Linked DNA regions of Homo sapiens. The protein of the gene in region 3 interacts with the protein of the main gene of each other region in a pairwise test. Each region holds a gene or a part of one and is shown on either strand. Other genes may lie near its edges. The genes, in order: PDS5A, MTF2, GLE1, ING5, LHX8, GPR75-ASB3 and FAM3B.

Region 1 (4,405 bases), on a different chromosome or scaffold from region 3:
TAACCATGATACAACACTATCGTAATAGAATTTCTGCCAAAATGACAGTCTTTTTTTCTTTTCTTTCTTTTTTTTTTTTTTTTTTTTGAGACAAGTCTCACTCTGTTGCCCAGGCTGCAGTACAATGGGATAATCTCGGCTCACTGCAACATCTGCCTCCTGGGTTCAAGCAATTCTCCGGCCTCAGCCTCCCTAGTAGCTGGGATTACAGGCGTGCACCACCATGCCCAACTAATATTTTTGTATTTTTAGTAGAGATGGGGTTTCACCATGTTGGCCAGGCTGGTCTCGAACTCCTAACCTCAAATTATCTGCCTGCCCTGGCCTCCCAAAATGCTGGGATTACAGGGGTTAGCCTCCACGTCCGGCCTAAAAATGCAGTCTTAATCTAATAATGCAGGAACACTTGAAGAAGCCACAATGGCAAACAGTCAAATTCCTAACTCAAAATTCTCTCTCTTTTTTAAGACAGAATCTCACTACATTGCCCAGGATGGTCAAGCTTCTAGGCTGAAAAGATCCTTCCATCTTCAGATCAGAATTCTTAATGACATCACTCATTTACTTTGTGTATTTTTGACAAAAATTACATATACGATGGTGTACAACATAATATATGTATATATTGTAACATTTACTTTAAAAAAAAAATCTATTAAAGTGAAATGACCACACATCCTGGTTGGCCTGGGACAGTTTGATTATGCTATTTAAGTAAAAATATCAATAGTGATCCCTTTCAGTCTGAAAATAATCCAGTTGGACCATTAATCATATGGCCATCTTACACAGAGAAGATCTGAATATGTTCACCCAACAAAGAATCAGTATTCAGTTATTAGGCTTAATATTTAGTCTGGAAGGATAAAGCACCAGTAGTTTTAGACACTAGCCACAGGTATTTTGACGTGGTCATTTATTTGAACACCTGAAACCATCCTACTACTGACCTGGCTGCCAAACAAGCCTACACATATAAGAATAACCTGAACATAAATCGTAACATTTTGTCTATAAATATTTACCTGAGGTTCTTGATTCAACTATAGAAGCAGCAACAATCCAATCAATAACAACTAATTAGATAAGATGAAGTAATTTTACGAAATCCTTAGAAAATACAGCAGTTATTTGAAAAGTAACTTACTTTACAGCATTTGGATCCAAACTAGCATATAAGTAATATAAGCATTTCATTCTCTCTTCTGTTTCCAGGTTGTGGGGGACAAGATACTGAGCAAAGATTTTCTCTACCAACAGTCTAGGAAATAACAACAACAAAAAAAACCTAAGTGACACAATTATTCCATTTTTAAGAAGCAATTTTTTTTTTTTTTTTTGGAGACAGGGTCTTGCTCTGTCACCCAGGCTGGAGTACAGTGGTGCAAACTCGGCTCAATGCAACCTCTGTCTCGCAGGTTCAAGCGATTCTCCCACCTCAGCCTCTCCAGTAGCTAGGACTACAGGCGCGTGCCACCATGCCCAGCTAATTTTTATATTTTTTGTAGAGACAAGGTGTCCCTATGTTGCCAAGGCTGATCTGGAACTCCTGAGCTCAGGCAATCCGCCTGCCTTAGCGTCCTGAAGTGCTGGGATTACGACGGGCATGAGGCACCACACCCAGCCAACATTTTAAGTTTTAACCATCTTATGCCAGGATACCATATCAAGATAATAGCTATGTGTGCACATACAATGGAAGATATCAGTTTATAATGACTTCCTTCTTGGAAAGCTTTCAGTACAGTTTAACTTTAGAGACACGGTTACTGTCTGTGGCTTTATAATTTGTCAGTATGAAACATTTGTTCTAGAAGGTTTAAATGTTATTCCTAAACACAGGGTGCTAGGCTGTTCCGCCTATTCTTCTTCAGCAGTCTAGAACAAAAGCAAATTCATTAACGCAACATATAAAGCTATGATCCGCGGTAGAGCTAATTCTCAAGAAACTCATTAATTTCCTCTGATTACAGTTCAGCCCATTTTCCATGTTGTCACATAGTTAAAAACAGGGGGACCCCCCTTCATATTACTTCCAGAAAATGTAGTTTTTCCTGTGTACATCTGATTATTGTTCTCTCCATGATCTAAATTCCTTACCAATATTGGAATATCCTTCTTGCTAGTACCTATTGCTTGTATCTTCTTGCTTCTATTATTTAATATCACTGGATTAAGAATATACAAGATCTCTTAATTAACAAATGAAATACATATCCAGTGATGCCAGAGAAGTTAGTTTAATTAAACAAAACAATGGAAACTATTCTGCACACACCAAGTATCATTTGTACGATCCAATATAGAATTATAAGTAATATTCAGAAAATGAAAACAACTTAGTAATTCCTCTATTGGTAGTGGTGTAAAAAGGAAAGTAACTAGCAGTTAACTCAATAGTGCTCTCTTGCCACACATTGGGCTAGGATGCTTTATATTCATTATTTTATTTAATCTACATGATAATCCTGTGGGAAAGGCACTATTATTTTTCCTTTTTATATAAAACTGAAGCGCACAAGACCTTAATGAACCTATGTAAGAATACACATCTAATAAAGGGCAGAGTGAACATTTGGTCTCTAACTCCAAAGTTCATGCCTATTTCATATTATAAGGCTACCTTATAATCGTGGACAGTCTTGTTTAAACACAGTACATAAAAATATGTAAAAAGCTATCTCTAAACTTAGAAATAAATGATTAATCAAGTTGAATAAACTTAATTTTATTTATGAAGTAAATACATAAAAATAAGAAATTACTAAAATATTAAATAGACATTTTTTAAGTAAAAAGTAGTTTTACACTCAACCATTCTACCAACATATTAAACTCACTTGTCGTCAATGCTGTTCTGATAATAAATATGCAGAAGTTTGTCCTTTATCCAGCTGACTTTCTCTGCAGCTTCCTTTCCTGCTTCACCATGAAGACAGTATTTCTTATAAAGCTGAGCCAGACCCATCATAGCTTCTTTTCTTACTCGCCACTAAAAAGCATAAAATTTATTAGATGAGCAAGATAACAAAACTCTGTACTAATCTCCAAAGACTGCCTTGGCTTCATTAGGTTGTACAGTCTTATGTGTGCCTTTATAAACTGGCACACTATTTCTCTTCAAAAGAGGCTTTACAAACAATTTTATTTTTTTTTTGAGACGGAGTCTCACTCTGTCGCCTAGGCTGGAGTGCAGTGGCAGGATCTTGGCTCACTGCAAGCTCCGCCTCCCAGGTTCACACCATTCTCCTGCCTCAGCCTCCCAAGTAGCTGGGACTACAGGCGCCCGCACGCCCGGCTAATTTTTTATTTTTAGTAGAGACGGGGTTTCACCCTGTTAGCCAGGATGGTCTCGATCTCCTGACCTCATGATCCGCCCGCCTCGGCCCCCCAAAGTGCTGGGATTACAGGCGTGAGCCACCGCGCCCAGCCTACAAACAATTTTGAATCTGTTCCTATTTAGAAATTTTCCAATGCAAATATTGCTAAATGATCTACTTTTTTCTTTTTAAAGAAATGGGGTTTCGTTACGTTGCCTAGGCTGGTCTCAAATTTCTGGGCTAAAGTGATCCTCCTGCCTTAGCATCCTGAGTACCTAGAACTACAGGTTACTGATTTTTTATTTCCCTTGAAAACTATTAATAACCTTATGGGAGAGTTCATTTGATTCTATTGAAAGAAAATTCACCAAGTTTTAGAAGTGATTATAATTCCCCTTGCAAACAAAACCCCTATTATCTGGAATGTTTTAATTGCCAGTTACATCCCTTTAGATGTTAACTTCGGATAAGAACAAAGTTCACTATCAAGAATTCTGGGCCAGGCATGGTGGCTCATGCCTGTAATCCCAGCACTGTGGGAGGCCAAGGCAGGTGCATCGCTTGAGCTCAGGACTTGGGGAACTGACTACCCAGTGAATCTAAAATCCTAGTAAATCTAAAATTGTAGTGAATCTAGGAGTTGAGCTGGCTGACTAACCAGTGAATCTAAAAATATGCTCACAAGCTGACAAAACCTGCCCACTCAAACAGAGCTTCCAATCAGCTGTGCAGTGAGTCAGTTAAAAATCTGACCAAGGGCGGGCATGGTGGCTCACACCTGTAACCCTAGTACTTTGGGAGGCCGAGGCAGGTGGATCACCTGAGGTCAGGAGTTCGAGACCAGCCTGGTCAAAATGGTGAAACCCGGTCTCTACTAAAAACACAAAAATTAGCCGGGCATGGTGGCACGCACCACTAATTCCAGCTACTTGGGAGGCTGAGGCAGGGAAATCACTTGAGCCTGAGAGGCGGAGGTTGCGGTGAGCCAAGATTGCGCCACTGCACTCCAGCCTGGGCGACAGAGTGAGACTCTGTCTCAACAAAAAAACAAAAAACAAAAAACTGACCAACTATTCAAGGATCAT
Region 2 (4,405 bases), on a different chromosome or scaffold from region 3:
CACCTCTATTGTATATTTTCCTCTAGTATCATTTCTACCACAGTATTTCTTGAGTTTCATCTTTGCTTTTCTCCCTACCTCCCTCAGAAGTGAAGTAGCACTCCATAAATTATTCTGGTATCAACCTCAGGGTTTCTAAAATTTAAGACCACAGAAGAGTGGTTATTACAGAACTAGGATTTCAAATAACTTTAAGAATCAAACACAAATGACAATAAGCGATTACAAAAAGTACTAATATCTCATTTTAAACTCCCCAAAACAATCTGATACAACAGATGAGACTTCATTTTACATAAAAACCTTAAGAAAGTTTATCATGGTTTCAAATGTTAAGTATTTTTACTATCTCAAAGAAAATAATCCAAAACATAGTAGTTCCTCAAACAGCTACACTCAATCTATATGATAATCATTAGGTACCAAGCCAAAAGAAGTACAAAAACTACATAAGGAAACAATGTAATACTACCATTATCTTCTAAAATGATTCAAAAGTTTTATCTTCTCTTCATAACAATCCTATACCGTATTCAACTAAGAAAAAAATATGATACATGAATGTTACATTTTGGCTTTTCAGTATGACAGGATATTATCTCCAAAAGTGTAATATTTTTGAAACTTCTTTTTATTACTAAAAGAAGTCACAGCTTTGGATGATAATGATGTATTGATGTAGCTTCATCAATTATAACTATCTACCATTATGGTGGAGGGATGTTGATAATGGAGGAGGCAATGCATGTGTGGCAGAAGGGGACAACCTAAATCTGCTCTTAAAAAAAAAAAAAAAGTCTTTAAAATAAAAACAGTCACAGTGCTTCCTTTATTAAAAAAAGGGGGGGGGGACACAATACACGAAACAGAATACAACTGATTCAATGTAAGATTACAGCAAGTAATTACAAATGTAAATATGTATTTACTAGGTTTCTAAAATAAAAAATACCATTAAAGTTTAGCCAGCCTCATCATATGTAAAATTATAATTCAAAGTTCAGGGATAATAAATGTGGATAACTGCCTAGTTGTGCAATATATATTCCTACGCAAAATGCCATAAAAAATCTCAATCAACTTATATCATTACAAAATTTTTTCTCTGATCTGGTGGCAAGAGGAAGGAAACTCCACATTTTAGATAAACTAAAATCACAACCTTTGTTCTATTTTGTTTCATTTTTGAAGATAAATTTCTAGAGCAGGCGCTTTAGTCTATATTACGTATAACAAGAATTGCTGAGGCAGGAAGATAACTTGACCTCAGGAGTTCAAGGCTTCAGTGAGCTATGTATGACTGTACCATTGCACTCCAGCCTGAGCAAGGGTCTCTTAAAAAAAAAAAAAGAGAGAGAGAGACTCTCCTGTCCTGTCTCTTAAAAAAAAAAAAAAAAAAAAAGAAAGAGCTGATGTTCAAAATGACTAAAGTACTCCAAGGTACTCAATTATAAAATATAAACATTATATTTAGCATACACTACTTCCCATGTTTTGAAAATAATTAATGGCATTTTATAAGATTTGGAACAAGAATATAAACAAAAGTAAATTTTTGTTAACCTAAATTTGGATTAGTGACAAAATTCAATTTGTAATTCATTTTTAGTTTATCAAAAATTTTCTATTCAAATAATTTGGAATGACCCATTATTTATGTTACCTTTTTATTGATCACTACAAACATTTGAAAGTAATCTAAATGAAAAACACTGAATAAACATGATAAACTAGCATAAATTTTATCATCTCTTTATTATTAAAAACTCACCCTAAAATCCAATTATAATTACAGTACAAAAATATAAAATACAGAAAATTAGAAACCTTAACTTCAATCTGTCAGTTACCAAAGTCTGTGAATGAGATGTCTCATCTAAGAAGTCTGAATATTTTCTTATTTTAATCCACAGAAAGAACAGTAAGAAATTATTAGTCTCTTGTTTTAGTAATAAATTTGATGGTCAAAAAGTGGAAATAATTTGCAAAACTTTTTCTTTTTTTCTAAGACATTACCTCATAGGCTACAGAAATAAAAACATGTATTATTACTGAAGCAAATTTTTTCTAGTATGTTTCAGAAGTTCAGTTGGAGCTGGGACACCCAAAATTCATAAACTGAACTCTTTTCTTGAAAAATATACTAAATGTGATTTTCATTTTCTTATATTTCCAGCCTCTCAAATAAAATCTAAACACTAAAATTTAAATTTTAATTAAAAAGGACAGCATTTGAAATAAACACAACTTGAGTTTTTATATTATATATACCCAATGTCTACATCAAGTTACTACTGCAGAATTTCATCATGTAATGCAGACAATGTACTAACAGGTATACATATGTATCTGCATATGAAGTGCTAAAAGAATAATGGCTAGAAAGAATTTTTAAACAAATGTATTATAGTATTAAATATTAAGATAATTATAAAAACCACTATAGCCACTTCTAATGCCTTACCCCTTACTTTCTGATTACTAATCAGTTTATTAAAATTTATCAAATGTGGCCATGCCCAGTGGCTCATGCCTGTAATCTCAGCACTTTGGGAGGCCAAGGTGGGCGGATCACTTAAGGTCAGGAGTTCAAGACCAGCCTGGCCAACATGGCAAAACTCCATCTCTACTAAAAATACAAAAATTAGCTGGGTATGGTGGCAGGTGCCTGTAATCCCAGCTACTTAGGAGGCTAAGGCAGGAGAATGGCTTGAGCCTGGGAGGCGGAGGTTGCGGTGAGCTGAGATCACGCCATTGCACTCCAGCCTGGGTGACAGAGCAAGACTCCGTCTCCAAAAAAAAAAAAAAAAAAAAAAAAAATCAAATGTACACATCACTCACTTTCTCTCAGACTTCATCTAAAAAAAAAGTATTTAACAGAAAACTTAACAAAAATTTGTATGATAATCCAATATCTAACATTCAAAACTCAAATGATGAATTCAAAAATTCATCAATTGAATTTCAATAATATCCTAGATTTTAAAACTACAAACTAAATCATGCATTATGTTCTCCCTGATATCCCATAAACCCCCAAAAAGCCCTTTGATATCCTATTTGATATGAAATAGGATGTCCTTCGTGTCTCAAAGCTACAAATCAAGAAATTCTTCCTAAACTTCAAATCAGTGTGCAAAATTTTTACCTAAAAAAAAGCATGACTAAGATATACATATCAAATTCCATATTATAAAACAAATTTTTTAGTTTTAACTAAAAGTAGTTAATATATGTACTTTAGTAATTCTAAATAAAAGCTAAAAATAAGGTCCCTAACTATTAAACTTATTCTAGTTACTTTTCTCTTTCTGCTATTCATTAGTTTCAAAATTTTCTTTAATGAACACACATTACTTTTAAATTCATTTAAAAAAAGACTGTAAACCAGCATAGGTAGTTACACTTCAAAAATGAGAAGCAAAATGAGATGTCAGAATGAGAGGGGATAATTTTCTATTCAGGCAGCTTCACTCTACAACTCATTTTTCTAACAATATTATTAGATCCCACCATTCCTACAAGTCAGAAATATATAAAGGAGTACCAACAAGAGAGGAAGGAAGAATGTTGGTTATATCTCTAAGTTTATAGAAAACTTAGAAGAAAAGGAGGTTGAACTACAAGTAAGATACCCAATACTAAAGATTTCTCCCTCCCTTCTATCTTTAACTACAATGACTTTCACTTCAGAAAATGAAAGAATCAAATAATATACCTCCTCCTTCTACAAATTTCCAGAGTCAACAGGCAACAAACACACAGGAGGATGAGAAGGCTGGTCCTGATATCCATACCAAACTTATTTGTCCCCAGAACTAAAAATAAAATTCTATTTTAGTTGTCTGACTTATACATGTGTCTCAGTTGTTTTTTGAAAAACAAAACAAAACAAAAAAGACATCAAGTAGCTACTGAAGTTAGTTCTCAGACCACCTACCTCTCCAGGGTGCAATCTATCCCAGTTTTCATTAATGTATGTCATAAGCTCAAGTTCAGAATCAAAGTATTTCTTCTTATGAATAACACTTAGGTTGTAAAGGCATAGGTGTGCTATATCTACCCTGGAATCCGAAAATAATCAAATACACAAAACAATGTTTTTGGTTACTGTTAAAAAATCACGGTTTCCTTATAAAACAGTAATTAAAATGCAAAGAGAAATATTTAGGTGGATAGTCATATTCACAATACAATAAATCACTACACATAAAAATAACTAGAAAATAGTGACTAAACATTCACTTATTCTGAATAGCAACTATAAACTAGAAGATATATGAATTACTTCTTTTTTTTTTTTTTTTTTTTCTTGGAGACAGAGTTTCGCTGATTGCCCAGGCTGGAGTAGTACAATGGCACAACGTCAGCTCACTGCAACTTCCGCCCCGTGGGTTCAAGCGAT
Region 3 (4,405 bases):
GTACAGTGGTATGATCAAGGCTCACTGCAAACTTCACCACCCAGGTTCAAGTGATCCTCCCGCCTCAGCCTCCTGAGTAGCTAGGACCACAGGCACATGCCACCATAGCCGGCTAATTTTTTTTTTTGAGATGGAATTTCCATCTTGTCGCCCAGGCTAGAAAGCAATAGCACGATCTCAGGCAATCTCCGCCTCTCGGGTTCAAGCGATTCTTCTGCCTCTGCCTCCCGAGTAGCTGTGATTAAGGCACCTGCCACCACACCTGGCTAATTTTTTGTATTTTTAGTAGAGACAGGGTTTCACCATGTTGGCCAGGCTGGTCTTGAACTATTGACCTCAGGTGATCTGCCCGCCTCAGCCTCACAAAGTGCTGGGATTACAAATGTGAGCCACCGCGCCTGGCCTTTTTTTTTTTTTTTTGAGACAGAGTTTCACTCTTGTTGCCCAGGCTGGAGTGCAATGGCATGATCTCGGCTCAGTGCAACCTCCACCTCCTGGGTACAAGCGATTTTCCTGCCTCAACCTCCTGAGTGGCTGGGATTACAGGTGCCTGCCACCATGCCCAGCTAATTTTTTGTATTTTTAGTAGAAACGGGTTTTCCCCATATTGGCCAGGCTGGTCTCAAACTCTTGGCCTCAGGTGATCCGCCCGCTTTGGCGGCCTTGGCTTCCCAAAGTGCTGGGATTACAGGCGTGAGCCACCGCGCCCAGCCAACACCTGGCTAATTTTGTAGAGACAGGGTCTCACTATGTTACCCAGGCTGGTCTTGAACTCCTGGGCTCAAGCGATCCTTCTGCTTCAACCTCCCAAATTGTTAAAGTAATTACAGGCATGAGGCACTGCACCTGGCCCAGAGATTACTTTTTATGGCTAAAAAATAACAATATATTATTACACTCAGCATTACTATTAATATATTATTACAGGCCGGGCGTGGTGGCTCACGCCTGTAATCCCAGCACTTTGGGAGGCCAAGGCGGGCAGATCACAAGGTCAAGAGATCGAGACCATCCTGGCCAACATGGTGAAACCCCATCTCTATTAAAAGTATAAAAATTAGCTGGGCGTGGTGGTGGGCGCCTGTAGTCCCAGCTACTCGGGAGGCTGAGGCAGGATAATCACTTGAACCCAGGAGGCAGAGGTTGCAGTGAGCTGAGATCACGCCACTGCACTCCAGCCTGGGTGACAAAGCGAGACGCTGTCTCAAAAAAAAATAAAAAAAATAAAAAATATGTATATATATTATTACATATTATTACATCTGTAGAATACTTTGTTTACCAAGCACTCATATCCATCATCAAATCTGAGCTTCATGTAAGCCATGAGGTAAATTCACAGGAGGTAATAGATGTCATTACCCTCATTTAAAAATCAGGAAAAGATGCTCAAAAAGACTAAATGATTTGTCCATTTTTGCAAAGGTATTAAATGACAAAGCAGGGATAAAATTCCAAGACCCCAGTATCCTTTCCACTAAACTACATTGACTACTGGCACCTAAGTTCACAAATCCCAAAGGCTCTCCAGTTTACATAAAAGACTATGTATATATATTTTTTCTTTCTTTTTTGAGACACACTCTTGCTGTGTCACCCAGGCTGGAGTATACTGGTGCGATCTTGGCTCACTGCGACCTCCGCCTTCCGGGTTCAAGCAATTCTCGTGCCTCAGCCTCCTGAGTAGCTGGGACTACAGGTGTGCACCATTACACCTGGCTAATTTTTGGTATTTTTAGTAGAGATGGCGTTTCTCCATGTTGCCCAGGCTGGTCTCAAACTCCTGAGCTCAGGCAATCCACCCAACTTGGCCTCCCAAAATGTTGGGATTACAGGCATGAGCCACTGCACCCGGCCGAAAGACATTATATTTCTGATAGAACATTCAAGGTACGTAATAGGAGCTGTGAGGAGGGAAAAACAAATTCCAATTCTATTTATATTTCATTAATCACTCTAGGGATAGTGAGTAGGGAGAAAAACAACTTTACCTCTGATAGTCTTCCAAAGCCATTCCCTCCTTGAAAGTGGGATAGAAAGGAACAGAGTAAGGACACTTCTTATGTAGATGAGCAAGAATGAGGTCCCCCACTCTGGGGTGGAGCTCCCAGATCCCGGATGCCACAACTGCAATGGGGAATGCTGCTTCATGGTGAGAGGCCACTTCCTCCTCGCCTTGTTTCTGAGAACATAGAGGTGGGTACAATTTTAACTTAATACCAGAAAAAGGCTGAAATCTTGTACACCAGCCTCTGCTTCCCATACCTCTAGCAACAAGGTTTCTCACCACAAATTTCTCTGCCAGTTTGTATTGAACAAAGTCCAGCCCCTGTGGGTTAAGTGTGACAGACACAGAGCGCCCACCAGATTGAACAGGTTTTCCAGAGAGCAGGCTGTGGATCTTGTCAAAGATCTCCTTCAGTTTTGAGCCTGAGCATGATAGAGAGAAATTAAAAGATATAACCACAGATCAATCTCTTTTTCTTTTCCTTTTTTTTTTTTTTTTTTTTTTTTTGAGACAGTATCACTCTACTGCCCAGGCTGGAGTGCAGTGGCACAATCTTGGCTCACTGCAACCTCCGTCTCCCGAGTTGAAGCAATTCTCTGCCTCAGCCTCCTGAGTAGCTGGGATCACAGACGCCCGCCACCACACTGGGCTAAGTTTTGTATTTTTTTTTTTTTGTAGAGATGGGATTTCACCATGTTGGCCAGGCTGGTCTCTAACTGCTGACCTCAAGTGATCCGCCCGCTTTGGCCTCCCAAAGTGCTGGGATTACAGGCGTGAGCCACCATGCCCAGCCTGTTTCATCATTGTAATTACAAAGCATCTACAAAAACCCAGCTGTGCTGCCCTACAGAAATGAAGGGATAAACAGTATCCCTTACTGTACACATAAAATGAAGGGATAAACAGTATAGAAAGAGGTGTTACATTTTGTTACAGACCCCATGGACTGTGGTTGGTATCTCTAGAGGAGTTAGTCACATCTCTAGGAAAAACCTTCTAAAGGATCTAACCAGCTCATGATGATATGCCCCCTTCTCAGGACTTGCCTTCTTCCGTCCTCAGAGACACAGAAGTGGATTCGTAACAGCTATATTTGTACCAAAGATTTTGTGTGCTCCACCCCCACACTAGCTACAGTTAGATTAGAGGCAGTCAAGCTGAGCCAGTCAGTCAACTAAGAGTCACTTCCTTGAGGTAGCTGGCCCTGTGTCACATACACTCACAAGCAGTGGGGGCTGCGTACCTGCCATGAAGACCAAAGAACGGCAATCTATAAAATAAGAATGGAGATGTAGAGAGGACAGATGAGATGAGAGAGGAAAAAAGAACTAAAGTTTCTAGCTCCTGAGACCTCACCTCATTCCTGCCACTGGGTTCTGTAGGATATTTCTTTATCTTTCCAATAAATGCTTTTTTTTTTTTGCTTAAGCAGATCTGGGCCAGCACTTTGGGAGGCCAAGGCAGGCAGATCACTTGTGGTCAGGAGTTCGAGACCAGCCTGACCAACATGGTGATACCTCGTCTCTACTAAAAATGCAAAAATTAGCCAGGTGTGGTGGCGGGTGCCTGTAATCCCAGCTACTCGGGGAGGCTGAGGCAGGAGAATCGTTTGAACCCAGGAAGCGCAGGTTACAGTGAGCCGAGATTGTGCCACTGCACTCCAGCCTGGGTGACAAAGCAAGACTCCATCTCCTCCCTAAAAAAAAAAAAAAAAAAAAAAAAAAAGCAAAGCAGATCTGAATTACTTTCCATTACCTGAAGTCCTGAAGTCAATGTTTTAATTAATACAGCATCTCCAGTTGAGAAATACCCTGTCAAGTTCCTAATCACTTCAAGAAATGTCACAAAAGTTTCAGAAATATCCTGTCATTCAGTTCTCTTATCAAAAAAAAAAAAAGCCAACCATGTGGACCCCACTGGCTGAATGCCCCATCTAGCATCTAGCCTCTCTCCATACCTCTCTAGGTAGGAGGAAAGTTAGTTAGCTTCCAACCCTAGACTGACGTGGCCTCCCCATGCCACAGCAACATCATGTCCTTATTTAAGATTTCTTCTAATTCTAACCACTCATGGACATCCATCTTTTTTTTTTTTTTTTTTTTTGAGCTGGAGTCTCACTCTGTCACCCAGGCTAGAGTGCAGTGGTTCGATGTCACCTCACTGCAACCTCTGCCTTCCGGGTTCAAGTGATTCTTCCACCTCAGCCTCCCAAGTAGCTGGGACTACAGGTGTGTGCCACCACGCCCGGCTAATTTTTGTATTTTTAGTAGACACGGGGTTTCACCATGTTGGCCAGCCTGATCTCAAACTCCTGACCTCAAGTGATCTGTCTGCCTCATCCTCTCAAAATGCTGGGATTACAGGTGTGAGCCACCACACCCGGCGACATCCACTTTT
Region 4 (4,405 bases), on a different chromosome or scaffold from region 3:
GTTCTTTGACCACAACAGAAGTCAACTAAAAAATTAAAATTAGAAAGGTATCTGAAAAATCCCAAATTATTTGGAAATTGAGACACATACTTCTACATAAGTTATAGGGCAAAGAAGTAGCATGAAAAAAAAAATTCTAGGTCAGGTGCGGTGGCTCACGCCTGTAATCCCAGTATGTTGGGAGGCCAAGGCAGGCAGATCACCTGAGGTCAGGAGTTCAAGACCAGCCTGGCCAACATGGTGAAACCCTGTCTCTACTAAAAATACAAAAAAAAATTAGCCAGGCATGGTGATACGTGCCTGTAATCCCAGCTACCCAGGAGGCTGAGGCAAGAGAATTGCTTGAACCTGGGAGGTGGAGGTTGCAGTGAGCCAAGATCACACCACTGCACTCAAGCCTGGGCAACAGAGTGAGGCTCCGTCTCACCAAAAAAAAAAAAAAAAAAAAAAAAATTCTATTCCAGCACTTTGGGAGGCCAACGTGGGTGGATCACTTGAGCTCAGGAGTTTAAGACCACCCTGGGCAACATGGTGAAACTCCATCTCTACCAAAAATATAAAAAATTAGCCAGGCATGGTGGCATGCACTTGTGGTCCCAGCTACTTGGGAGGCCGAAGTGGGAGGATCTCTTGAGCCCAGGAGGTGGAGGCTGCAGTGAGCCAGGATCATGCCACTACACTCCAGCCTGGGTGACAGAGTGAGACCTCATCTCAAAAAACAAGAAAAACATTCTAAAATATTTTAAATAGGTAAACGAAATAAAAATTTAAAACAATATCAAAATTATATCAAAATCATAATATATCAAAATTTGTGGAGTGCAACAAAGATAATAATTAGAACAAGGAAGATATAAAAATCAATTATGCAAGCTACTTCCACCTTAAAAAGCTAGAATAGTATAGGCAAAGTAAACCTGAGTAGAAAACAGGAAATAGAGAGTAGAAACAAATGCAATAGCAAACAAAAAAATAGAGAAAACAATAAAAATAATGAAACTAAAAGCTAGTTCTCTAAAAAGATCAAGACGGCCAGACGCAGTGGCTCACGCCTGTAATCTCAACACACGGAGAGGTTGAGGCAGGCGGACTGCTTGAGCCCAGATGTTTGAGACCAGCCTGGGCAACATGATGAAACCCTGTCTCTACAAAAAATTAGCCAGGCATAGTGGCGCATGTCTGTGGTCCCAGCTACTCGGGAGCTGAGGTGGGAGAATCACTTGAGCCTGGGGACAGGGAGGTGGAGGCTGCAGTGAGCCATGTGCATGCCACTGCACTCCAGCCTAGGTGACACAGCTAGACCCTGCCCTCAGGGAAAAAAAAAAAAGGATCAAGACAAAATGAGAGAAACATAAATTACCAGTATCAGGACTGAAAGAGGGGTCATCATAACAGACACATCAGAACCATAATAATGCAAAATTATTAACAACCTGATGTCAAAAAAATCTGACAACTTACATGAAACAAATTTCTTGAAAGACACAGATTTTTTCCAAAACTGACTCGAGAAGAAATAGAAAGCCTGAATACTTCCATAACTTTAAAGGAACTGAATGCAACATCAAACTGTACACTTAGAATAACATTTTATTGTATGTAAATTATTCCTTAATAAAGTTAATTTAAAAGGTTAGAAAAACAACAGGACTAAACTATAATGTATAGTGTCTAGGAATGCACTATAAAACTATTAAAGAAACAAGGAAATAAACACTATAGAAATCTGGATCATGTTTATTTGGGGGCAGGAGGAGTTTATGATTTTAACAGGGCATATGGAAGGCCTTCCAGCAGCAGTTAATCACTGACTAGGTGCTACTTACAAAGATCTTCACTTTACGGAAATTAATTAAACCATGTTTGTTCTGTGCGGTTTTCTGTATCTGTGCACTACTTTACAATACGAGAATGTTGGGATTTTTTTTTTTTTTTTGAGACGGAGTTTTGCTCTGTCACCCAGGCTGGGGTGCAGTGGTGTGATCTTGACTCACTGCAACCTCCACTTCCCGGGTTCAAACAATCTCCCTGCGTCAGCCTCCCGAGTAGCTGGGATTACAGGCAGCTGCCAACTACTCAGCTAAGTATTTTGCATTTTTGGTAGAGACGGGGTTTCACCATATTGGTCAGGCTGGTCTTGAACTCCTGACCTCAGGTGATTAACCTGCCTTGGCCTCCCAAAGTGCTGCGATTACAGGCATGAGCCACCTCGCCCGGCCAAAAGGCTAAGCACTAGCTAAAAAACTGAAAATTGGGGCTGGGCACAGTGGCTCACGCCTGTAATCCCAGCACTTTGGGAGGCCAAGGCAGGTGGATCACGAGGTCAGGAGATCAAGACTATCCTGACTAACAAGGTGAAACCTCATCTCTACAAAAAATAAAAAAAAATTGGCTGGGTGTGGTGGCATGCACCTGTAGTCCCAGCTACTTGGGAGGCTCAGGCAGGAGAACTGCTTGAACCTGGGAGGCAGAGGTTGCAGTGAGCTGAGATCGCGCCACCACACTCCAGCCTGAGGGACAGAGCAAGACTCCATCTCAAAAAAAAAAAAAAAAAAAAACTGAAAATTGGGTCGGGTGTGATGGCTCATGCCTGTAATCCCAGCACTTTGGGAGGCCGAGGCAGGTGGATCACCTGAGGTCAGGAGTTCGAGACCAGCCTGGCTAACATGGTGAAATCCCATCTCTACTAAAAATACAAAAACTTAGCCGGGCATGGTGGTGCGCACTTGTAGTTGCAGCTATCCAGGAGGGTGAGGCAGGAGAATCGCTTGAACCTGGGAGGCAGAGGTTGCAGTGAGCCGAGATGGCGCCATTGCACTCCAGCTTGGGCAACAAGAGCGAAACCCCATCTCAAAAAAAAAAAAAAAGAAAATTGTCCCTTTTTTGTCAAGAAGAACTCTTTTTTTCTCTTTATTTTTTTTTTTTGAGACAGAGTCTCATGCTGTGGCCCAGGCTGGAATGTAGTGGTGCGATCGTGGCTCATGATCCTCCCAGCTCAGCTTTCCCTAGTAGCTGGGACTACAGCCCACACCACCACCCTCAGCTAATTTTTTCTATTTTTTGTAGAGATGGGGGACTCACTTGGTTGCCCAGACTGGTCTCAGATTCCTGGGCTCAAGTGATCCTCCCGCCTTGGCCTCCCAAAGTGCGGGAATTATAGGCATGAGCTACCGTGCCCAAAACTTACACTCTTTGACCCTCCCTCTGTGAGATCATCTCCACAGAGGCTTCGTGGCATTTCAGCATTTTCTCTTTAGTCTAAATGTCACTCCTCTGAGGTAATGCTACGATCTCTTTGGAGGGTATACAACACCTTTGGCAGGGAGGGTGTCAGTGGGAGAATGCTTTAAATAAAGTATCTCAAAAAACTTCAAGTTAAATGACATGTCTATTTAATAAATGTGGCCACATAATTAACAATGAATATATGCACACTATATGTTGACACATAAAATAACTGACAGATATACAGAAATCTAGCTACTTAAAGAGTGGTCTACATTGGCCTCTGTCAACAACACGTTGCTCACCATCCTCCTGTCCCTAGTGGGGCAGCACACACTGTGGCTAAGAGGACAGGCACTGGAGTCAGACTCCAGGTGCAGCCCAGCCGCACCACAGCAGCCCTAAAGCCTGGGCAGGTCCCTGCGACACTGAAAATGCCCCTGACAACGGCACCCCCTCAAAGGCTGCGGTGAGGACAGGCTGACGACAGGCGCGCAGCGTAAGAATCAGAATACCACCCGGCACACGGGGTGCACTTCACTCGGGTCAGCTTCCATCAGTGTTCCTACATCCGGGATACAGGCTATGGGTATTCGTTCTTTTGGGAAAAAGAGGGGAAAGCCTCTTACCCTCCTTTGTGCTTCTTTTTCTTTGGTGTGTCTTCCTCTGATGTCCTCCTGCCTCGGCCCCGGGACCCTCTTTTTTCTTTCTGACCCCGGCCTTCTGAAAAATAATCAAGATGCAAATTATTTTTATAGAATTCTCTAAAGCAAGGCAAGTTTTGTGTTTTGTTTTTAAAAAGGGGTCTCGCTCTGTCTCCCAGGCTGGCTGGAGTGCAGCGGAGCAATCATAGCTCACCGCAGCCTTGACCTCCCGGGCTCAAGCAATCCACCCACCTCAGCCTCCCGAGTAGCTGGGACCACAGGTGTGCACCACCACACCTGGCTAATTTTTAAATTTTTTGTTGAGATGAGGTCTCGCTATGTTGCCCAGGTTGGTCTCAAACTCCTAGCCTCAAGTGATCCTCCTGCCTCAGCCTCCCAAAGTGCTGGGGTTACAGGCGTAAGCCACCACACCCAGCCTGCAAGACAAGGTTTACCCAAATATGATACTTACCCTAGTGATCATACTTTAATGATTTACCGTGACAAAACTCTTCAAAACTCCATAGTTAACAGTA
Region 5 (4,405 bases), on a different chromosome or scaffold from region 3:
AGTAATTCTTATAAAATACTCTGAAGGGCTACAACATATAGTGAGCCTATGTATAGATACAAATAATAAACACATAAGCATGCTAGTACTCTTTCCTTTGGAATCATATCAAAAATATTTAATGTTCAACCTTAACATATTGAAAGCCAACATTCAAAATATATTCTCCAAATGGTAGGGCTTAGGACAAAGTTAACTTGCTCATAGTACTAGTAACCTAAATGCCTGGAAATTACATGACAGATGTCTGCCTGTGTTCCTTAGTCCTTCAAATATGAAAAGCTCTAAGAAAACTCTCCTTCTTCTTTGCTTCCAACTTCAAAATGATATAAGTCATGCATCTGACTTACCTGAAGCTATCATTGTTATGAATATACAGAGTCTTAAATTAGAAGGAACTTTTAGCCCGTGGAGTCGGAACTACCTGCCAAAGAAAACTGTTCTCCCAGGCAGAGGAAACTCACTACCTTCCTTGGTAGTCCGTGCCATTTGTGTAGCCTTTCAATAATGAGAAAATTCATTATGAGTGAACACCAGTGCCTTTTTCTACATTCCGTTGCAGGGAAGCCTTTCACAAATATTTAAAGACACCTACTCTGGATATTACTCTTTCTCTTACCATCTCCTGGCCTTATCTCCAGATAAATATCCCTGCTGCCTTTAATATTATGGCATGATCTAAATCTTTCACAACCCTGGTAGCCTTTGAGGTAGTATGTTTTTCAGATTGCTTATTAGTCCCTTCTTAAAATTTGGCACTCTGAAATAAGCACAATAATCTGGATATCTGAAAGTGCTGAAGTGGTAGAACTTGTCTCCTAAGACAGCCTCATTACCTTGCAGTCAATTAAAACACTGTGAACCCTAGGTCTTTAGAGAAGCTGCAGTATCATCAGGTCTTTTCCATCTGCTTCTTCGTACAGGTGATTTGTTAATTATGAAACCTTTAGGCTTACAGAAGAATAAGTACCCATGTATCAACCACCCAAATTAAGAAACAAAATAAAATATGTGCAATGAAGACATTTGCCTTTCCCCTCCCTGAGTTTCCTCTTGCCTTTTATGGTTACTTGCTTTCACTCCTTAAATTTTTTGAACTTCCGGTGTTATTTAAAATTATTTTCCGGCTAGGCACGGTGGCTCACCCCTGTAATCCCGTCACTTTGGAAGGCTGAGGCGGGCGGATCACAAGGTCAAGAGTTTGAGAACAGCCTGACCAACATGGTGAAACCCCGTCTCTACTAAAAATACAAAAATTAGCTAGGCATGGTGGCTTGCACCTGTAATCCCAGCTACTCAGAAGGCTGAGGCAGGAGAATTGCTTGAACCCGGGAGGCGGAGGTTCCAGTGAGCCGAGATCACACCACTGCACTCCAGCCTGGGTGACAGAGACTCTGTCTCGAAAAAAAAAAAAAAAAGAAATAAAATTATTTTCCATTTCCCTGGTCTCTCTGATAATCTTGACACAGCTGGCCATCTCGTTCTTGAATTCACCCCACTTCTTCAGCTTCCATGCTTCTTCTCCACCCGACTCCTTCCTCAACTCTGGCTGTTACTACGTCCCATTTAAATAGCACCTCTTACCCTGCTCTCCTCTCTGAAACCCGTTCTTCACCTTTTATACCCTATGATCTCTTTCTAAAGGATCTTATCTAATTTCATGGCATTAGATCTCTTTGCTTGAGTCCTGTTCATTCTTTCAAATACCTGTTTGCATAGTTAACTGCCACCATCACTGCATAATTAGCACAGCTAAAAGGGTCCAACTTCCAATCCAGCTTTCTTTTGACTTTCACATTCCTGTCAATGGCACCATTCCCAAGATTACTTTGACTTGAAATTTATAAGTCACTGACTTTTTTGAGAGAGGATCTTACTCCATCACCCAGGCTGGAGTGCAGTGGTACTATCATGGCTGACTGCAGCTTCAACCTCCTGGACTTAGGTGACCCTCCCACCTCAGCCTCCCAAGTAGCTGGGACTGCAGGTACACACTAGCATGCCTGGCTGTTTTTTTTCCTGTAGAGATGGGGTTTCACCATCTTGCCTAGACTGGTATCAAACTCCTGTACTCAAGTGACATATTTGCCTTGACCTCCCAAAATGCTGGGATTACAGGTGTGAGCAACTGAGCCTGGCAGAGTCATTTACTCTTTGACTCCTCTCTGCTTCCCCATTGCAGTTACCAATTCTTTCTTGTCTTTCTAGCATCCATCAACTGTCATCAGTGTTCACTCAATAAAATGTTTCTCAGCTGGGCATGGTGGCTCATTGCCAATAATTCCAGCACTTTGGGAGGCCAAGGGAGGAGGATTACTTGAGTCTAGGAATTTGAGACCAGCCTGGGCAACACGGTGAGACTCTGTTTCTACAAAAATTTAAAAATTAGCCAGGCGTGGTGGTGTGCAACTGTGGTCCCAGTTATTTGGGAGGCTGAGGTGGGAGGATCACCTGAGACCTGGAGGTCGCTGCAGTGAGCTGTGATTGCGTCACTGCACTCCAGCCTAGGCCACCCATGACCCTGTTTCAAAAAGTTTCCCAAATGAATTCTACCCCAGTAAAGTGTCTCTTCAGAAACAAACAAACAAAAAACAAACAACAACAACAACAACAACAAAACCACACTACGTTGCTGGGCATTCCAGCCTTCCAACTAAGCTGCTTACCTCTATCTAGTCTCTCCCAACTCCAGTTCTTCCCATGTGCTGTGACTAGCCCTTTCTTCCTAAAATCACATATCATGGCTTTTACCTGCTCATAAGAGAACTCTGCATTCACAGGCCTCTCCAACTTTAACTCCAACAATTTCATTTCCCACTATTTCCAAACATAAATTCTACATTTGAAAAAACTTGCACTAATTCATCACTTTTCAGCTTTGTTCACACCAGTTCCTCTCCCTGGATCTTTGGCAAAGGCCATCAGCAGCCATCACACACACAATCATAAAAAAAGTAGGAAAAACACTGACCTTAGAGCAAGATTTATCTTGGAACATGTTTAGCCTGAGGATCTTAGGGTTGCTGTGAGTACTGAATGAAGTAACATGAGCAAAGACTCATTTGACAAATGGTAGCCTAGCCCAAGCAGGATAATCATTACATTTTAAAAATTTGATTTAGAATGTGAAGAGACTTAAAATGAAAAAGCAATGTTTTCACATTTCTTCACACACAAAAAAACACCAATGCATACTTATAAATACCCAGAATTAGAACTTTTTGTTTCTCTTGATTGACCTTTAAGTTAATCACCTGTGGCCAGGTACAGTGGCTCATCCTGTAATCCCATTACTTTGGGAGGCTGAGGTGGGAGAATCACTTAAGCTCAAGAGTTCAAGATCAGTCTGGGCAACATAGGGAGACCCAATATCTATTTTTTAAAAACCTTAAAAAAAAAAAAAAGTAAAGTAATCACCTGTATCACACGTCTGCTCAAGCCTGTCCTTTCTGCCAATTTCTGGAGTGTCTGTGCATCTGGGTTGTTGTCCTGAGCAAATTGTGCTTGCATAACCTGTTGTTTAAAACATGTATGTAGTAAATAGCTAAAAACAAGCAGCTCAGTCTTCTTCCTGCATTTTTATCATAAGAGGTAAGACATGCACAAGAACATGGGATACTTTTGTTACTTGAAAATCGGTATGGGGAAATATGGGTAAGTGAAAACGAATGCATATTTTGTAAATTTATACACAAGTTGCTATGCTGAGAACTTTAAAAAAATCCATTTCAATGTAAAACTCTCTCAACTATGCTGTTAAAAATAAGCTCACCTTTTCTTTTCTTTCAATCTTATAACCCACAAATCAAATAGCAAGAGTTTCATTTATTGTTTTTTCCATTTTGTTAAAAACTGCCAACATTTGAAAACTTAATACAAAAATCATATCACATTTGTCTCCAACCTTTCCTGAGCTAAAGATGTTCAAGGCCCCTAATACCTAATAGTATACAGATCAACAGAAGGATTCCACTTAATTGTAACAACTCCATCATAGTTTTGAGCACTAGCTCTATGCAAAAAAAAAGGTGTCTAAAAAGAGACACTCACCAGTCCACTGAATAAGAATTTACCAGAGTCTAAACATGTATATATTTTAAAAGCTTACAGGTGATTCTGATGTAAGCCTTTGGATTGAAACCACTATGCCAAGTGCTAAGAGATAGTGAAACATGAAACAAAACTCTTTGGATTTAATTTCCTGGCAGAAAGATGCCGACATGCCAATGACTACCTATAATAAAAGATAAAGGGAGAAGAGTAGTGTGGGAGAGAGTACCAGAATATAAGCACAAGCCAAAAACTTTGAATTCTTTCAGAAAAGAGAATCATTATGAGAATTAAGTGAGATACTTGAATTTTATTACTAAAAGTCAGTCAACTGAGGGAAGCATTACAAAATGTA
Region 6 (3,493 bases), on a different chromosome or scaffold from region 3:
CTTTCTTTCGAGACGGAGTCTCACTCTGTCTCCCAGGCTGGAGTGCAGTGGCGCCATCTCGGCTCACTGCAAGCTCCGTCTCCCAGGTTCACGCCATTCTACTGCCTCAGCCTCCAGGGTAGTTGGGACTACAGGCACCCATCACCATGCACAGATAATTTTTTTGTATTTTTAGTACAGATGGGGTTTCACCATGTTAGCCAGGATGGTCTCAATCTCCTGACCTCGTGATCCGCCTGCCTTGGCCTCCCAAAGTGCTGGGATTAAGGGCGTGAGTCACCACGCCCGGCCCCTTTCTTTCTTTAAAGATGGTGCCACAGACATGCCCCTCTCAGTCTCCTGATTAAAATCCTAATTGTGCTAACATGCCCATTTATCTCAAAACTGAAACCATTTTTTTTCCCAGCTGAGCACATCTTTGAGTTTAGGGCTGTTCTTGCCTTTGCAGATTAGAATTGGGTTGGTTGGTTTTGTTTGTTTGTTTGTTTTGCCAAAGAATGAAAAGAAACTGGAAGGGAAAACCCAGCAATATGATTGATTTTCTATGTTCTTTCAAAGTAATTTTTTCCTGTGAGTTTACATGTGAAACGGCAATGAGTATCAATTCTTCATAAAAGTGACTGAATTACCCTGGGGCAGAGGTTGCAGTGAGCCGAGATTGCACCACTGCACTCCAGCCTCGGTGACAATGCAAGATTCTGTCTCCAAAAAAAAAAAAAAAAAAAAAGCAACTGAATAGGAAAACATGTTCTTTAATAAACATAAGAGATAGTCAAGTCTAAATAAAATAATAATGATAATAATAACAGATTCTACACCACAGTTGTATACACTTCCAGTGAAGCTTTATGCATTCCATTCTGAGCTCCTAATACCAGGTAAACACGAATCATAGGTGGAAATATGCCATGTTTAGCACTAGAAGTAACATCACAGTTTATTAGCAAAATAAAGCAGAAAATGATCAAAATGATCAGGTAAATAAATATTACAACATATAATGTACTGGTGATGAAGCTGCAATAAAGTAATATAAGTGATGTTTACAATTTTTTTTTTTTTTTTTTTTTTTTTTACTGGGAAGGCTAGTTGTAAACATAAACATTCTCACTGAACTACTGGCCCCCCAAAACCTAACCTATCTCACAATCAATAATCATCTTTTGACTATAAAATCATAAAAACTTGTACTCTGTGGCTCTTTTGTCTCGATGATTTTTCAGAGAAAAAAATTAGCTGTGTTAAGTAGTTTCACTGATTTATCCATCTTGAATAGCTGCCAGTTCTGGAACTTCATACATCCTCAGAACGTCTTCATAGAGCAAATAATTATGTAGGCTTCTGGGAAGTGGCAGCTGACTAATATAACTGTCAGACCGTAGACGTTCTGATTTTAGACTGGACCGAATTTCCAAACGACAAAGATGGGTCAGGGATGGAACAGTGGCTGGAGAAACAAAAAAAGCAAGGTGAAACTTTTTTAAACAGAAAGATGTAATAGCACATAAAGGTAAATTTTTTTTTCCCCCAACTCTTAGTAATAAAAGTGATATATTGCTTGAAAGAAGACTACTTTGAGTCAGTATGACCACAATAAACCTTATTTATTCTTTTCTACAGCCTTCAACTGGCTCCTCTCCCTTCAGTTTGTTGGCCACACATTCAAAGTCAGTATCCAGGGCCGCAAACACTAAATGCTCAAATTCTAAAGATCTGTTAATACCTGCACTTAAGAAATGGATGAACCAACTTTAGAAATGGTGGAAGCTCACAATAGCAAATGCTACCTTCCTCTTAATCTATTTCATTACAAATGGTTTCCAGACCTATCACATCAAGTGAATAGATGTACAGCTTGCAAGTTTTCCTTTTTATCCATAACATAAAATGAAAATTTTTAATTGACTCTGAGAGAAAGGGAGTATTTACTGAGTGCCTTCTATGCCATAAGCCCATGTACTTCACTCAAATTCTCTTTTTATCTTCATTAACTTCATGAAGTATATATTATCAGGCTGTTGTAGAAATTTAAAAAAACAACTTTCCAAAGTCACAGAGCTAGTAAGCAGCAGAGCCAGGATTCAAACTCAGATCTATCTGAACCCAAAGCGTGTGTGTGTGTGTGTGTGTGTGTGTGTGTGTGTGTGTGTGTGTATCTGGCAAGGCAGTGCAGCCAAAAGCTAACTACCAATTAAAGGACAATTCAAATGCACATAATTAAGAACTGTATGATAGGCCAGGCGCGGTGGCTCATGCCTGTAATCCCAGTACTTTGGGAGGCTGAGGCGGGCAGATCACCTGACGTCAGGAGTTCAAAACCAGCCTGACCAACATGGTGAAACAACGTCTCTACTAAAAATACAAAATTAGCTTGGCGTGGTGGCACATGCCTGTAATCCCACCTACTAGGGAGGCTGAGGCAAAATAATTGCTTGAACCTGGGAGGCGGAGGTTGCAGTGAGCCGAGATCATGCCACTGCACTCCAGCCTGGGCAACAAGAGGGAAACTCCTTCTCAAAAAAAAAAAGAAAAGAATCATATGATAGCAGTTTCATTTTCCAAGATGAAAAGTGTTAAATAAAGAAGTTAATGTCTGCTTTTATGTGAATCGGACCAAAGCCTTTTGTTAATTCAAGAAATCTTTTATAAATCCCTGTGAAATTTAACAATGATGAACAGACCAGGATCAGAGCATCAAAGACAAGTACTATCAAGAGCACAGCTGATACCAGACCAGCTAGTCTGATTCCAGGTATAGGGTTCTTTAAACTCTAATACCCATAGGGCTTGAGACCAATTAATTCTCTAACATCTTCAATATCTTCCAAGCCATAGAAGTTAACTCATCATCGTTTTTAGTTTACTAGTTTAGGTTTAGTTTAGTTTATTCAGAATTAAAGAAATCACTCAAACTGGTGTTTCAAAATGCCAAATAAGAAAGCAAAAGTTATCGATTTTGTACATAAAACCTAAGTCTAAGCTGGGCATTTTCTTAAATCATGAGTCATAGATTCCCTATTATAAATAATAAGATTACAGTATCTATAGTATATAGCACGCACATTTATTTCTAACTTTTTTCATATCCATATCTTACTTAAATTTGACACTTTTCTGTAAACTTAAAGGAGAAATGATGGTTCTCACATGAAAGATGGGAAGACACAGGTAAAGGGGCCACTGGAGGAAGTTGCAGGAATACATATGGAAAGCAGGCCCAAGCTGCAAACACCACCGTTTTCCAAAGGTTTAAGTAGATTGACTATGTTCAACTATCAAGTATAAGGAAGCCCTCTTAGTAGGATCATGAACAATAATTGGTCAGTTAATAGAAACTCACCTTAAAGCAGGTGACCACAACAACCATACATACTTTAAACATTCTAATTTAAAATGGATACATGAACACATCTAGAATGCAACATCTATGGCTTGCAGTTTATTTATGTATTTTTTACTCACCACTATATAAATAAGGACACAGTTTCACTTT
Region 7 (4,405 bases), on a different chromosome or scaffold from region 3:
AAAAAGGAGGAAGCCTTCCAAATTATTTTCATAAAGCTAACATGTCATTGATTCTGACACTTGACAATGGGAACATGCACATATACAACATGCACACACACAATTTCTGTGATCTTCAGCAATAATTACCATCTCCAGGTAAGTCATTTAGTTTTCCTGATTTTAGGGCACAATCCTCTTGAATTTGGCATTTCATATTCTACAATTTAAAGGTTAAAAATTAAGTGACATACTCAGGCATGGTGGCTCATGTCTATAATCCCAGCACTTTGGGAGGCTGAGGCGGGCAGATCACTGGAGCCCAAGAGTTCAAGACCGCCCTGAGCAGTATGGCAAAACTCCGTCTCTACAAAAAAATTTTTAAAATTAGCCTGTTGTAGTGGTGCACGCTTGTACTTCCAGCTACTTGGGAGGCTGAGATGGAAGGATTGCTTGAGCCCGAGAGGCAGAGGTTGCAGTGAGCCACGATTGCACAACTGCACTCCAGCCTGGGTGACAGAGTGAGACCCTGTCTCAATAAATAAATAGATAATAAATTAACAATAAAGTGCATCTGTGAAGAGCCTGAGCTAAATAAATGTTAGTTTTTCTTCCCCCTAGCCATTTGTCTAAATTATAAGATTGAATGCAGTGTCCAGGTCCCCTGAGAGTCCAGGTCCCCTGAGGGACTGAGTCTGTAGACACTGAGAATAGATGTGTGTGGATGAACATGGGGGTGGCGGTCTCGGGAGCTGCACCAAGGCGAATGCAGACTTTCAAGGAAAAGGTGGGGGACAGCAGATGAGACTGACATTTGGTCAGGCGAAGACTTCGCGGAGCGGGGAGAGTCGCACGCCTCTTGGTACTTGACTAATGCTTAGCTCCATTTCAGACTTATGGGAGAACAGCTGGGAAATGTTGCCAGAGGAATAAACATTGCCATTGTCAACTGTAAGTTACTAAACATTTTCTTTAAACTTCTCTAAAAGCTCTCTGGTCAGATTTTCAAAGGTACCTTGGGTTTTCGAGACTTTTGCGCGTGATTTAGTCTAGGTTTGTATTTTAATGCATTTTAAGATTATATACTCAATTATTTTTACAAGTCTCACTTCACAGATTATTTGTGGTTCTAACAACAAATAAACAACTGAAAACCAAATATAGACTTTATTTTAAAAAAAGAAAAAAACAGAGGGATAGGCCAAAGTTAGGGTTAACACCAGAAGGGCCGCCAAGGGGGTGCAGCCTGTGGTCCTGGACTGAGCCTCTCATTTGCTCCCAGAGTCCCAGTGTCTGCTCAGGGGCTGACACCATAGACCATCTCATCCTTCTGTGTGATAAAAGCCACTGCAACCTCGTGGGAAACAAAACTTGGCCTTTCTCTTAGGTCTGGAATAAAGCTCTCTCACAGTTGCCTTTGAGGGGCCCAGAGGAGAAGGAAAGGGTTTCCCACAACGTCCCTGTGAGTGAGTGGGCCGCATAGCCCCGAGACGTGAGGGCTGTGGAAGTGAAGATAAAATGCTCCCAATCTGACAGCCCTGAAGGAGGCTGTAAAGTAGGAAGTGGGCAGGCTGAGGGGGCTCTGGTGTTTCTGTGGGATGAGGCGGGTGGGCCTGGCTGAGGGGGCTCTGGTGTTTCTGTGGGAAGAGGCGGGTGGGCCTGGCTGAGGGGGCTCTGGTGTTTCTGTGGGATGAGGCGGGTGGGCCTGGCTGAGGGGGCTCTGGTGTTTCTGTGGGATGAGGCGGGTGGGCCTGGCTGAGGGGGCTCTGGTGTTTCTGTGGGATGAGGCGGGTGGGCCTGAGTGAGGGGTCTCTGGTGTTTCTGTGAGATGAGTTGGGTGGGGGAGGTATTAGTGTTCCATCAGGTGTAACCCAAAGCAAACTGGAAGAAAGTTCTAGCACAGCTTCCAGCACTTTCCTTTGACCTGGTTTTGGGGACTCTCCTCAAGGGGCCCGCCCTGTCTCTGCAGGCTGGGTCATTACATCAGTGGTGTTTGCTGGAGATAGACAGGGAAGAAATATTTCCTTCCCCAGGCCCTGGTGCCACAAGTGCGCCCTAGTTCTGTGAACTTTCTTTTAAAATACCATTTCTTTTATTTTCAGATGTAACTGGGAATGTGACAGCAACACGATGTTTTGATATGTATGAAGGTGGTAAGAAAATTTTTTCTGTTAAAATTCAAATGAATTTTAAACAGAAAATTAAGATTAAAAAGCACAAAGAAAAATGTCAACCATTTTTATTTTGTCTACTAGAAAAACGCCAGCAGCTCTCCTGAGTAATCTAGAGTGGTCTTATGTAGATCCTCTTAAACTCTAATTGAATTCATAGAACATTTGAAGGCATCATCTAGAAATGTCTTTTCTTCTGTTAGTTTTCCTCAGTCTTTCTCTTTTTAGCTCTCATGATATAATAAGAAAGAGAAAAAGCCTTTTTTTTAAAAAAAAAAAAAAGCCAAATACATTATATGTAAAATAAAGCCACCAGCATCCAGCCCTAAATATCATCATCCTTTGAAAGCTGTCACGATTACTCCTGGTGACTCACAGTGCTCTGCTGGGCTCAGGGCAAGCATTCCCGGAACCCACGGGTGCCCAGTCTTTCTCGATGGTCTCTCCTTTCTAGGCACTGACTCTTGACTGCAGTTGTTGGCCAGGATATACTATCCCCTCTTATTTTTATATATCAATGAGACTTTCAAAAACAAGTTTTTATAAAGATAGTGAAGACGAAGAATAGAAAACGCCTGCACCCACCCAATAAGAAGGACACAGTTGTACTCTGCAGTTAACCTAAGCAGAACAGTAAATAATGAGCCGCAGCGGTGAGTAACAGGGTTTGAGGTTTACCTTTATTTTATAAGGCATAGATAAGTCTCTTGGCACAGACTTGCCCACGGTCCACATGTCTCGTATTTGAGTTCTGTGGGAGTCTCTCTCCTGCACACGTCGGTGTGTTTGCAAGGCCACTCTGCTCAGTGGTCGTGGTGTGGGTGTGGGTGTGGCCCTTTATCAGTGACTACAGAGAACACTCCACCTGTGCCACACAGGCTGCTGCTTGTTAAGAGTTTGGTGATCTCATTTCTAAGGAGGGTTTTTTTTTTCTACCAGGGGCTCCACTTCTCTTGTTTGTTGGTCAAAAAAGCTCCTTATCTTGACCCCCTTTCACTACTGCCCTGAACACCTATTGCAAGTGTTAGGTTCTTTTCCTTCTACGCTGTGCCACTCACCTCAGATAGTCCCTATGGTACCCCAGTGAATGTTCACACGTCCAGAGCTAGCACACCATCTGCAGGGTTGAGCAGCGAGCGCTGGGACCCCCAAGGATTCAGAATGGACACAGAATGCAGGTGCAGGAGGAAGCCCAGCACCCAAGGCAGAGCCTCAGTGAACAGCAAAGACCCTAAAACTGACTTGCATCCCCCAATAGATAACTCTGGACCGATGACAAAGTTTATTCAGAGTGCTGCTCCAAAATCCCTGCTCTTCATGGTGACCTATGACGACGGAAGCACAAGGTGAGTGGGTGTAGGTCTGTCACAGCGGTGGGCAAGAGAAGCCAGCTGGGGCAGAGGCTGCCAGGGTCTCTCAGTGACATCCTCTGGGGACAAGCAGAAAGTCCAGGAGCAAAGTACTTCTCTAAGGAAAAAGAATGAAAGATCATGACAAAATAGATGGCATTTCTTTAAAAAAAAATTAAATCACTAACCACAGAAGTACTAGAACCTAAATCAAAGGAGTATTTCAAGGAATCAAGACAAAGCCACTGTTGACCATAATTAGGACAGACAAACTAACCTCCGGACAGAAAGCCTAAACCCAGGGTGGCATTAATAGTTACAGCAATGTGAAAGGAAATTGAGATAATTTCCCTATAGAAAGAGGAAAAGAGGCTGGGCGCAGTGGCTCACACCTGTAATCCTAGCACTTGGGAGACCGAGGCAGGCGGATCACGAGGTCAAGGGTTCGAGACCATCCTGGCCAACATGGTGAAACCTTGTCTCTACTAAAAATTAAAAAATTAGCCAGGCATGGTGGCATGCACCTGTAGTCCCAGCTACTCAGGAGGCTGAGGCAGGAGAATCGCTTGAACCCAGGAGGCGGAAGTTGCAGTGAGCCAAGATTGCACCACTGCACTCCAGCCCGGTGACAGAGCGAGACTGTCTCAAAAAAAAAAAAAAAAAAAAGAGGAAAAGAATAAAGAAATACACACATACACATTCAATACTGTACTAGAAGTGGATGTAGCTCAGTGCCTCTCAGAGTGTGTCCTACTAAGTAAACCAAACCTGTGTCTTTGCTGCAGAATGTCTAAGAACCTTCAAAGTGCTTATTTGTGTGGTGAATTTCCCAGACAGGGCTACTGACCACAGCATTTCCCAAATTTATCAGATTCCTTTTTTCATGGAGCATCTTACCAAACTGAA

What was found.
Region 1: the proteins of GLE1 (region 3) and PDS5A interact in binary tests that used the Homo sapiens proteins (3 or more experiments, as listed by UniProt).
Region 2: the proteins of GLE1 (region 3) and MTF2 interact in binary tests that used the Homo sapiens proteins (3 or more experiments, as listed by UniProt).
Region 4: the proteins of GLE1 (region 3) and ING5 interact in binary tests that used the Homo sapiens proteins (3 or more experiments, as listed by UniProt).
Region 5: the proteins of GLE1 (region 3) and LHX8 interact in binary tests that used the Homo sapiens proteins (3 or more experiments, as listed by UniProt).
Region 6: the proteins of GLE1 (region 3) and GPR75-ASB3 interact in binary tests that used the Homo sapiens proteins (3 or more experiments, as listed by UniProt).
Region 7: the proteins of GLE1 (region 3) and FAM3B interact in binary tests that used the Homo sapiens proteins (3 or more experiments, as listed by UniProt).

What each region holds. Positions count from the first base shown.
Region 1 is NC_000004.12:39,901,200-39,905,604, forward strand, and holds part of PDS5A (sister chromatid cohesion protein PDS5 homolog A), read right to left. Parts: intron 2,993-4,405; coding exon 2,841-2,992; intron 1,262-2,840; coding exon 1,148-1,261; intron 1-1,147. UniProt on the Homo sapiens protein: Probable regulator of sister chromatid cohesion in mitosis which may stabilize cohesin complex association with chromatin. May couple sister chromatid cohesion during mitosis to DNA replication.
Region 2 is NC_000001.11:93,120,208-93,124,612, reverse strand, and holds part of MTF2 (metal-response element-binding transcription factor 2), read right to left. Parts: intron 4,065-4,405; coding exon 3,941-4,064; intron 1-3,940. UniProt on the Homo sapiens protein: Polycomb group (PcG) protein that specifically binds histone H3 trimethylated at 'Lys-36' (H3K36me3) and recruits the PRC2 complex, thus enhancing PRC2 H3K27me3 methylation activity.
Region 3 is NC_000009.12:128,531,538-128,535,942, reverse strand, and holds part of GLE1 (mRNA export factor GLE1), read right to left. Parts: intron 3,279-4,405; coding exon of another isoform or gene 3,252-3,278; intron 2,431-3,251; coding exon 2,288-2,430; intron 2,183-2,287; coding exon 1,992-2,182; intron 1-1,991. UniProt on the Homo sapiens protein: Required for the export of mRNAs containing poly(A) tails from the nucleus into the cytoplasm. May be involved in the terminal step of the mRNA transport through the nuclear pore complex (NPC).
Region 4 is NC_000002.12:241,711,521-241,715,925, reverse strand, and holds part of ING5 (inhibitor of growth protein 5), read right to left. Parts: intron 3,949-4,405; coding exon 3,855-3,948; intron 1-3,854. UniProt on the Homo sapiens protein: Component of the HBO1 complex, which specifically mediates acetylation of histone H3 at 'Lys-14' (H3K14ac) and, to a lower extent, acetylation of histone H4. Component of the MOZ/MORF complex which has a histone H3 acetyltransferase activity.
Region 5 is NC_000001.11:75,147,695-75,152,099, reverse strand, and holds part of LHX8 (LIM/homeobox protein Lhx8), read right to left. Parts: intron 3,514-4,405; coding exon 3,418-3,513; intron 1-3,417. UniProt on the Homo sapiens protein: Transcription factor involved in differentiation of certain neurons and mesenchymal cells.
Region 6 is NC_000002.12:53,669,244-53,672,736, forward strand, and holds the end of GPR75-ASB3 (GPR75-ASB3 protein), read right to left. Parts: intron 1,448-3,493; coding exon 1,260-1,447; 3' UTR 1,050-1,259; downstream 1-1,049. Other genes in the region: ASB3 (ankyrin repeat and SOCS box protein 3), read right to left, coding at 1,260-1,447. UniProt on the Homo sapiens protein: Probable substrate-recognition component of a SCF-like ECS (Elongin-Cullin-SOCS-box protein) E3 ubiquitin-protein ligase complex which mediates the ubiquitination and subsequent proteasomal degradation of target proteins. Recognizes TNFRSF1B.
Region 7 is NC_000021.9:41,343,605-41,348,009, forward strand, and holds part of FAM3B (protein FAM3B isoform a precursor), read left to right. Parts: intron 1-871; coding exon 872-930; intron 931-2,081; coding exon 2,082-2,132; intron 2,133-2,604; exon of another isoform or gene 2,605-2,803; intron 2,804-3,408; coding exon 3,409-3,496; intron 3,497-4,405. UniProt on the Homo sapiens protein: Induces apoptosis of alpha and beta cells in a dose- and time-dependent manner.